Linked DNA regions of Homo sapiens: region 2 is linked to region 1. The links come from fine-mapping of genetic effects on gene expression. Tissue or cell type: monocytes after R848. Region 1 holds a variant in brackets; the other region holds the start of a gene. All regions are shown on one strand. Distances are from middle to middle.

Evidence for each region. PIP is the estimated chance that this variant, and not a neighbour inherited with it, causes the effect.
Region 2: ADH5 starts here. The variant in region 1 is fine-mapped to the expression of ADH5 in monocytes after R848 (Quach 2016, PIP 0.95).

What each region holds. Positions count from the first base shown.
Region 1 is chr4:99,125,911-99,130,910 of GRCh38, reverse strand. It overlaps ADH4 (alcohol dehydrogenase 4 (class II), pi polypeptide), which reads left to right. Exons shown (of 9, transcript NM_000670.5): 7 at 3,567-3,702; 8 at 4,179-4,317. The region is part of intron 1 of LOC100507053 (a long non-coding RNA gene); the gene reads right to left. Among named protein-coding and RNA genes, the nearest start is that of ADH4, 16 kb to the left of the region's middle. The variant G/AG (reference allele first, on the strand shown) is at 2,100.
Region 2 is chr4:99,086,771-99,092,297 of GRCh38, reverse strand. ADH5 (alcohol dehydrogenase 5 (class III), chi polypeptide) reads left to right here and starts at 3,510. Exons shown (of 9, transcript NM_000671.4): 1 at 3,510-3,609. The coding sequence starts at 3,598. LOC100507053 (a long non-coding RNA gene) reads right to left here and starts at 3,441. Exons shown (of 10, transcript NR_037884.1): 1 at 3,014-3,441. RefSeq lists a silencer at 3,478-3,527 and a promoter at 2,312-3,565.

The DNA of each region.
Region 1 (5,000 bases):
CTTTTCTTTAACAGTATATAATATTTAAAATTAATAAACAATATGTGCATGTGTTGTTATATTTAATATTAACATATTCTCAACACTAGCTATATGTTAGAATTTCCTGAGGGGTTTTTCGTTGTTTTGTTGCTTTTTTAATACCAATGAATGGGCCAAACCCAGGATATTCTTGTGTGCTGGGAGCCCACTGACAACATTTTAAAAATTAATTTCTCAAGTTGAGAACCACTGACCTAAAAGTTAGCATCTTCTATTATTAAGCTGACTTATTATACCATGAAAGTCATTTTCAATTATGGAACAGAATTATATTAGAGAATCCAAATGGAAAGAGAAAGATTTATTTAATCACCAAAAGATGAGTTACCTACTCTCCCACCAAAAGTTTCTATAGCTAGGAAAAGCTTCTATAGAAAGTTTCTAGGTTCCAATGACCTCTAACCCTCTAAACCAAGGGTCAACACCCTGTAGCTTACCAGCACAAGGATTGTTTACTAACACCTGCTAAGGACCCTTTTAAGGAGCTGAATGTAGTGATACTGGAGTCTATGACCTGACTGGAAGCTGTAGAAAGATTTTATAACCTTGCAGTGATTAATTTTTTAGAGCTTTGATAACCCCCAGCAATAAGTCAGAGACTTAATTTAGAATTTAATTTTGAAAGTGTTTGTCAAAAATGTTAAAGGCCTCAAAACATTTGATTAAAACAGAACCACAGGTCATTGTAAAACAATAGTTACTTATTTAGCCAAATAAATCATCAAAAGACTTTAAAGGCAATACATGAGGATGTATGGATGTAAAAACCTTAACACTATTTTTTTAAGCAATTAAAAACCTAATGTAGACAACATGGGAATTATTTTGATAAAATGTAAAATGTTGTTTCTTAAGTCAGTTACCAGAAATGGAAAGAAAAACTGGTAGTGTGACTGCTTCTCCTTATGGGAAGCCCATTTCAATAAACCTGATGGGAAAAGTGCTTGAATTTAATCAGACATGGGAAAAGTGTGTTCAGGATTATGAGTACAGCAGGGGAATACATAATTCTTAGTAACTGCATGAGAAATTTTCTGGTTACATTGAAAAATTTAAACATATCAAGAAAAGCCAAGAGTACAGAATCAAGTTGTACTGGAGGAAAACATTCACTCCTAGACCTTTAAGATAAAACATTTTAGTATCAGGCCATAAGAATAGTTAGAACTGGAGGAAAAAAACTTATAATAGCTGATGAAAAAGCTAAAGAAAAGAGTTATCTCTGTCCAAGGGGAGACAAAGCTGAAAGCAGGGAGACATAGCAAAAGGTGAACTGACATATGATTTTGAGAAGTTTTCAAAAGAAACAGGTTATAAAACTAAAAGTTAAGTTTCTTTTAATTGTATTAAGAGCAAATCAATACTGTAAAGAGACTTTGTTTTAACATAGGGGAATAATCTTAGAAAGACTATTCTAAATAATCCTTTTTTAATCACAGCAAATTTAATCACATACAAAATTTTTTTATAAATTCCTCTTCATGAAACTTATTATGACTTACACAGATGATCTATGACATGCTTGGACTTCTGACTTATCCTAATTTTTTCCTTTTAAATAATAAGTCATTTTATTTTAGGACAAGATTTTACCATAAGATTCTTTTTTATATGAAATTATTCTTTTTTAATAACCCTTTTATTAAAAATACATTTTTATATTTATAACTTTACATTTCTCTCCCCTACTTACTTTTTTTTATCTTTTTAAGTAAATAACTTTAAAATAATTTCCAAATTATGTAAAATTATTCTTTAATAAGAATACAGGCCAGGCACAGTGGGTCATGCCTGTAATTCCAGCACTTTGGAAGGCTGAGGTGGGCAGACTGCTTGAGCCCAGGAGTTCGAGAGCAGCCTGGGCAACATGGCAAAAACCCACCTCTACTAAAAATATGAAAATTAGTCAGGTGTAGTGGCACACGCCTATAGTACCAGCTACTTGGGAGGGTAAGGTGAGAAAATAACTTAAGCCCAGGAAGTTGAGGCTGCAGTGAGCTATGATCACGCCACTCCACTGTAGCCTGGGCAACAGAGTGAGACTGCCTCAAAAAAAA[G/AG]ATAATACAATTATATATTTATATATGAATTAGAATTCTTATTCCTAGTAACCTTAAATTTTCATGAAAACTTAGAAAGCAAGAAATCCTGAACTGTTAGATGTAAGCATTTTATAGATGAAATCATTTCACAATTTTAGAAACATGTTTTCCTATATCATAATTTTTTAATTGGAAATGACTCACATATCCAGCATTTATTATTTAATTTAAAATAATTTTCAGATTTTATATTACACAAAAAGTCCACTTATAAGCATTTATTTCATTTACATATACTTTTTCATTTTTAATAGTTATCTAGATAACTTTTGATAACTGAGATATTATGCAGAACTAGCCATTATTTAAAGTTATTTCCTTGTTAACTTTTTTTTTGAGATGGAGTCTCACTCTGTCGCCCGGTGGAGTGCAGTGGCACGATTTTGGCTCACCGCAACCTCCACCTCCTGGGCTCAAGCAATTTTCCTTCCTCAGACTCCTGAGTAGCTGGGACTACAGGCACATGCTGCCATGTCTGGCTACTTTTTTGTATTTTTAGTAGAGACGGGGTTTCTCCATGTTGGCCAGGCTGGTCTTGAACTCCTGATCTCAAGTGATCCACCTGCCTTGGCCTCCCAAAGTGCTGGGATTACAGGCGTGAGCCACCATGCCTGGCCCTTGTTAACTAAAGTCTAAACATTAGGTGAAAACCTAAGTAAGAACCATAAGGTTAAACACATAGGTATTTTGCTGATAAATTAGGTGATTCAGTTGCTGTTATTGACCTAACAATTTTAAATTAGTCTTATTTGTCAAAAAAAAAAAAGTCACACAACGATAGATTTGGCTGGGTTTACAGTCTCACAACCTTTGTCCCAAACCCTGACACTTTAAACATTTAGCAGAGGCAAATATAAAACTTATTTACTTACACACAAATGTATGCTGATTTTTTAGACATCTTTATTTTTATTTTACTAATAATTTTTTTTTTTTTTGAGACAGAGTCTCACTCTGTGACCCAGGCTGCAGTGCAGTGGTGTGGTCTCGGCTCACTGCAACCTCCTCCTCCTCCCGGGTTCAGGCAGTTCTCCAGTCTCAGCTTCCCGAGTAGCTGGGACTACAGGCAGGCACAACCACACCCAGCTAATTTTTGTATTTTTAGTAGAGACGGGGTTTTGCCATGTTGGCCAGGCTGGTCTCGAACTCCTGGCCTCAAGTGATCCACCCACCTTGGCCACCCAAAGTTCTAGGATTACAGGAATGAGTCACCTGCACCCGGACTGTGCTGAACATTCTATTTGTAATGGAACACTGGGCCCTCAAGGCTCAATCTACAATGATACTATGATGTCATTAGCTTGAATCCCATTATCTTACATGCAGAGTTGGATTAATTTTTTTCTAAAGCATTGTACATTGCCACACTGGAGTTCATATTCTACTTTTCCACTGACTCAAGTATTCTTTTATGCTCCATCACAGAAAGCAGCCCTGGACTGTACAACCGCAGGCTGGGGATCATGTACTTTCATTGGAGTAGCTGCTGGTAGCAAAGGATTGACTATTTTTCCAGAGGAGCTAATAATCGGCCGTACTATAAATGGAACATTCTTTGGTGGTCAGTTTTTTTTTTCTTCATAGCTTTAAATTCTTTTCCTAGTAGTTCTGAAATTCTTAGAGTGAAGGTTATTGAAAAGAAATAAAAATAATTTATTCAACCATTGAATCCCTAGAGCATATCCAAATACTACATAAAAACTATTAATGACTTATAAATAATTTATATAAAAAGGTAATTATAATTTGCAAATTGAAATTTAATTTGCATTTGAATGAACCAACATGGAGGAACAAAAAATAAACATTGACCTTATTGAGATAATTTCTTATATAGAGTGGAAAATAATCTTAAATTTTTCTTATAAAGAAAAATTTTAAAATAGATATAAGTACAGAAAATTAAAGATGGAAGGAGTTTAATCTATTTGAAGCAAACCAAATCTGACCTAATAATTTCATTCATTCAGCAAATGCTGATTAAACTACTTCGTGTCAAGTGCCATGTCTTTATTTTGCATTTTGTCCACATTACAGGTTGGAAAAGTGTAGATTCTATCCCAAAGCTGGTCACTGACTATAAGAATAAGAAATTCAATCTGGATGCACTGGTGACCCATACCCTGCCTTTTGACAAAATCAGTGAGGCATTTGACCTAATGAACCAAGGAAAAAGGTACATTACTAATAGATGACTGAATGATTTAAAAAACGTTTACAATGATTCTATCTTCTTTTTGATGTTAAGAAGCAACCAGCTTGTTTTTTCTGACATTTTCCACATCCCAGGTACTAGATGTGCTTAAAAGATTAAATAGTGGTCATTTCAGAGGGGAAAACCTTCCATTTCAATAATGCACATCTGTACACTGTTACAATATAGAATGGTGGCATAAATTGATACAATTTCCATTTCACAAACCATTAACTCAGTTGGGCCTGCTCCCTAGAAAGAGAGGTTTCTGTGTAGTATGTTAGATCCCTCTAGTAGAGTGTACCCCTGAGTTTAGCACCGTGGTGTTCTGCAGTTTGACACAGAGTGCCTACCCCAGACCCTTCACAATCAGAATGGGGTGAAAACCATGCCTCTGTGGCAGGGATCAGACATGTAAAGGATGCCCCAACTGTCTCATTCTCTTGCTTTGTCATGGAGTTCCTCTAAGATACCTTCTGATCCACTATTTTAGTTATACAGTGCTCCCATGTCAGGGATCCCAGGAACTGATGCATAGAAATGTTCCACCTGGAAGATTCTTAGGGGTTGGGGGATTAGTAAGACTAGGATCAATGATTCTAGGTAAAATGTTCAAGCACAGCCTTGATCAATAGAAACAAAGGTCAAAAACATTAGGAACAATG
Region 2 (5,527 bases), 39 kb after region 1:
ATCCATCGGTTCTTGCATGTTGTCTACTTTTCCCATTAAAGCCCTTAGCATACTGTAAAAAATAAAGTAGAGGTTCTTCTTCAAAGACTTTCCTGCCCATCTAATTAGGAATAAATGGTAACTTCTCTTATAAGCAAAATTTATTCAAAGACCTGTGCTCCTAAATATTTGCCCTGGCATGCTTATACTAGTCCAAGCAAGCACTAGGTCATAGCCTGTTCCTCTTCCTTATTTAAAAGTGTTTTTACCTTTCTCAGCATTCCACAAGTTACCTCCTCCTTCCTTTGTTCTCCTCTACCTCTGCCTCTTTTAAAAAGTTCTAAGTTGCTAGCAAGTCAGGACAAATACAGAATGTGAGGTCCCGTTCCAGACAATGGAAACCGGACACAGCAGTAGGGTGGATACATTAGGTTATAAATGACCCTGTCTCCTTTGTTTGGTGTACTCTCATGGCAAAACTGCTGGCCAGTGTACCCTTTCTGCAAAAGTAAAAATGGCCTTACTAAATTAAATTTATGTTCAAGTACTATTTCTTTACAGCACCGGGGAACAAGCATTTCAAACAATATTAATCATAGTTGTTTTAAATTCATGGTCTGATAATAGCAACATCCCTGTCATCCTCTGGGTTTGGTTCCACTGCTTGCTCTGTCCATTCAAACTATGTTGCCTTTTAATATGCCTTGTAATTTTGTATTGAAAGGCGGATATAATATACTGAGTCAAAGAAATTGCAGTAAATAGCCCTTTAGTAATGTAGTGGTAAGATACACGGGAAGGGGAAGTGTCCTATAGTTCTACCATTTTATCTCAGTCTTTTAGTGAGCCTGTGTCCCTAGGCTGTAAACTTCACAGTTCTCAGTTTGTTTTTTCACCCCCTTAGGTGGTACAGAATGTCTAGAGGGAGCTGGAGTTGGGTATTTCCTTTCCCCCAGGTCAGTTAACCACTTGTAAAAATCCCAGTACACTAGGCTCGAGTAAAATAGTTTCTTTTGTTGGCAAGTCTTGTTAAGAACAAAATGCACTAGAATTTTTCAAAATAATTCCTTTTACACTCCTCATGCAGGAAGCAATTGGGGATTTTTCTCTGATCTTCTCTGAGAATTCACGGAGGTAAAACTCACAAAAGTGTGAAAGCCCCCCTAAGATTGGGTCCCCCAAGAATCTTTAACTCTCAAACTAATCCACAATGAGCCTCTGGCAATTCATCAATTACAGCTCAGACTTTCCTACTCCAGTAACAGTTCCTGCAAAAGTGTGTTTCTATGGTAAGTTGTGATTCTTTGAATCCACCCATCTGTGTCTCTAATTTTGGAGAAGCTGTTTTCTCTGTGACCCCACTTCACTTACAGCTCTAAGAAGAGTTATTAATTTCTCATTTTTTTTAGCTTTTTAGTTGTTGTTAGGATGGAGTGATGACTTCTAAATTCCTTACATGTCAGACCAGAAACCTAAAGTCTTGCCTATTATTGTTAAACAAGGCACTACAAAAATGCAAGTGTCTCTTTCCAGAAAATAGACAATATATCTGCAATAGGGAAAAGAAAACTCTCTGCCAAGTCTTTTTTTTTTCCCACTAGAAATTGCTTGCTGCATTCCAAGCAGAAGTATTGACATACACAAAGGCCTGGAATCAAGAAAAAGCATAGTCCCTTTAAGGAACTACGAATGTTCCTTAAATGTTGGTGTGAAATTTGGCAGGAGAGCAGGAAATAAGGATAGAGGTATATACAGAAGGAAGTAATTCAGAGCCTGAGTGGCCTAAAGAGTTTGGATTTTATCCATTTGTTCTCCCTTGAATATTTTTAAATAGAAGAATGGTATTTATTTATTTATTTATTTATTTATTTATAGCCTAACTCATTCAAAAATTATTGAAGGAAAATAGGAAATGGCATTGATTGATGTTACGTTTTGGAAAGATCACTAACAGGGCATTCCTTTTTAAGTATTAGATTCAAGGGCCTGGCATCAAAGAAATCAGATGGGAGGCTCTTTCAGTAATCCTGTAAGAAATTATGAAAGCCTGAACTAATACAGCAGCAGTGGGGAGAGAGAGGCACAAGACCAGAGAGATATTTAGGGCTTGGTGACAAACTGAATGCAGGGACCGAGGGAGAGGGAGAAGTTGTGACTCTCATGTTTCTGGCTAGGGTAAGTATGTGGAGAGTGTCAACACACAGAGGAAAGAGTCCCTATAAGGAGAAAATATTAATAGGAGTTTTAGGAGTTGCATTCGATTGTGAGATATCCTAATGGAGACAGAAATCCAGTAGGCAGTTACATGTCCAAGTCTGGAGTTTAGGGGAGCCATCCTGATTGGAGATAATAATCTGGTAGTCATCTTTCCATAAATAGACGTTAAAAGCCAAAGTGTGAGTGAGAGAGTGGAGTGAAAGGACGGAAAGACTTTGGACAATCTTACCATATGTACCCGGAAAAGAGCCAAGAAAAAGACTGAAAGACAGAAAAGAGCAGTGTGTCTGACAGAGCTATTTTAACAAAATTCAGCGTTTACAACAGAGTTTAAGAGTAAACTGGCAGGCCAGGTGCGGTGGCTCATGCCCGTAATCCCAGCACTTTGGGAGGCTGAGGTGGGTGAATCACTTGAGGTTAGGAGTTCAAGACCAGACTGGCATACATGGTGAGACCAACCCCCTGCCCCCACTCCCAATCTCTACTAAAAATACAAAATTGAGCCAGCGTGGTGGCGTGTGCCTGTGATCCCAACTACTCAGGAGGCTGAGGCACGAGAATCACTTGAACCTAGGAGGCGGAGGTTGCAGTGACCCGAGATCGCGCCACTGCACTCCAGCCTGGGCGACAGTGCGAGACTCCGTCTCAAACAAACAAAGAAAGAGTAAACCGACAAATACTACATTCTCTCTCTCTACACTCTGGCCCACTCTTAACACAAAAAACTGTCCAGGATCAGGAGACTTTTTGTTCTCCTCATCTCCTCCTTCCAAAGTTCTCTGCCCACGTTCTACTGTCTCCCCAAAATCCTACCTACCCTTCAGGAACTGCTGGAATGGGAGCTTGGGAAGTTTCAGCAAACTCCTCTCTCCTCCTTTGTGGCCCCTTTATTCCCAAAGCTGTGTCCTCTCCCTATGACGAGTCCCTTGAGGGGCTGTATCTTACTCCTTGTGTCTCCAAGCACACATAATGTGTATTAGGGGAGGAAGCATTCGCCAGTGGAGCACAAAGCTGTTGCAGGTCTCTTACTGGTTCTCAGGCGCTTTCAGTGAAATTCCCGTTCCCTCACCGTCCACATCTGTAATTTGCAAGTCTTATCTACGATAACTGCTGTAAAGTTACACGGGGAAGCCCTTTCCCGACAAAAAAAACGAGTTCTGCAACAAGTCCGTCGGATTTTAGCAATGAAACCGGCGCCGTGCAGCCTCGCCGGCGAGTGCACCCTGGAACGCACAACTTAGCGGCACGCACCACAGCTCGAGCACCGCCCTTCCGGTTGGAGCCATTGCAAGCCCCCCCCACGCCCCGCCCCCCTCGCTAGGCGCTCGCCACGCCCATGCCTCCGTCGCTGCGCGGCCCACCCCGGATGTCAGCCCCCCGCGCCGACCAGAATCCGTGAACATGGCGAACGAGGTAGGGCCCGTTGAGCGGAGGGCCCTGAGTCCAAGGGAGGGAGTGCATGGCATGGGACTAGGCTGCTATCCTCGGGGGCGCGCGAGGCTCGGCGCCCAAGACGGGATCTGGCTCTTGGTTCTGAAACTGGGCCCCCAGCGAGCGGCTCAGAGGGGCAGAAAGAGAAGGAAGCTTTGTCTCGGCTCTTCAGTTGGGAAGCAGCTTTCTTTGCTGCTTCTGGGACAGTCGGAACGGGGTGGGGGGGTGGGAGAGCCGGAGAGTGGGGGGCAGGGGCTGGTCAGGTCGGTATCCCAGTGGAAATGGCTTAGGAGCGGCCACGCATTGCTTCTTACACGAAATTAAGTAACTCGCTCTGGGTCATTCTTGCAGCTTGCATACTTGGCAGAGCTGCAGCCAGATCCCGTGCTTCTAACTCCTAGGTTGCTTGTGTTGCATAATTGAGCCTACGCCTTAATTATTGTGCCTCCAAGGAGTGTATTTTGGAAAGACCCCTACGTCCCTTTCAGAAACATTTTCGAGCACTTAAATACCAAGAGATTTATATTCCCTCTAGTCCTCACGTAACAAACACCTCTGCGAGGTGTTATCCCCATCTTACCAAAAACTGAGGTTTGAGGTTGGTTGTGCTTGGTCACACCAACGATGGCGAGCTGGGATTCCGACCCAGGTCTGCTCCTCTATGACAAATTCATAAAATACAAATTAGACAGTAAAGAAAGGCAGAAATTACGAATAACATACTCAGTCTAAAGTTGCTGATTATTTTAATGTTTTGCAATTTTGGACATTTTCTAGTAAGACAAATGGCCTTAAACATATTGGAGTTTGAAAGAAATAAACTCTAAACAGTCTTTCAGACTTAAACTGGTAGTTGCTTTTCCTTATTACTGAGTGTCTTTATTCAGAGAAGGTGAAAGATTATAATTGTTACTATAGTTCAAATGTTGAAGTAGGGCCATTTCCCGCGGATTTAGAGTGGGGCTTTGTTTTGCTTAGAATTGTCAGTAAAAGGAAAAGGTTAGGCTCCATTAAGACATTTTTTAAAGGGGAGCAGGCCATCAAATTTAGTATTCTTGTTTCTTTGGATTCCTATGTTGCATAACTTAATTGTTAGTATTCTGAATCTGACTTGTGGAGTTGAAATTTATGGCACATTGAAATGAAAAAGGTTCTAATGCAGTGTCTGATTCTTTGTACTATGAGATTTAATATCTGCAATTTAATTTTAAAAACGATCATTTCCACATTTCCAACCTCACCAATTTACAGAGGCCATTTCCCTCCCCCCCCCCTCCCCCGCCAGTTCAGACGGAGTTTCGCTCTTTGTTTCCCAGGCTGGAGTGCGATAGCGCGATCTTGGGTCACTGCAACCTTTGCCTCCCGGGTTCAAGCGATTCTCCTGTCTCAGCCTCCCGAGTAGCTGGGATTACCGGCGCCCGTCACCATGCTCGGTATTTTTGTATTTTTAGTAGAGACGGGGTTTCGCCATAGTGGCCAGGCTGGTCTCCAACTCCTGACCTCAGGTGATCCGCCCATCTCGGCCTCCCAAAGTGCTGGGATTACAGGCGTGAGCCCCTGCACCCGGCCTACAGAGGCCATTTTTTATATCTCTATGTAGTTCACCTCTCCTTTCCCTCAACCGTTTGTTCTGTTGCTACCAATAACTACTAACTTATTTTGCAAAGCTATGCTGTGCCAAGGATTGTGTTAGGGACTTCATATTCTTTTTTTTTTTTTTTTTTTTTTTTTGAGACGCAGTCTTGCTCTGTCACCCAGGCTGGAGTGCAGTGGCGCGATCTCGGCTCACTACAAGCTCCGCCTCCTGGGTTCACGCCGTTCTCCTGCCTCAGCCTCCCCGGTAGCTGTGACTACAGGCGACTGCCACCTCCCCTGGCTAATTTTTTGTATTTTTAGTAGA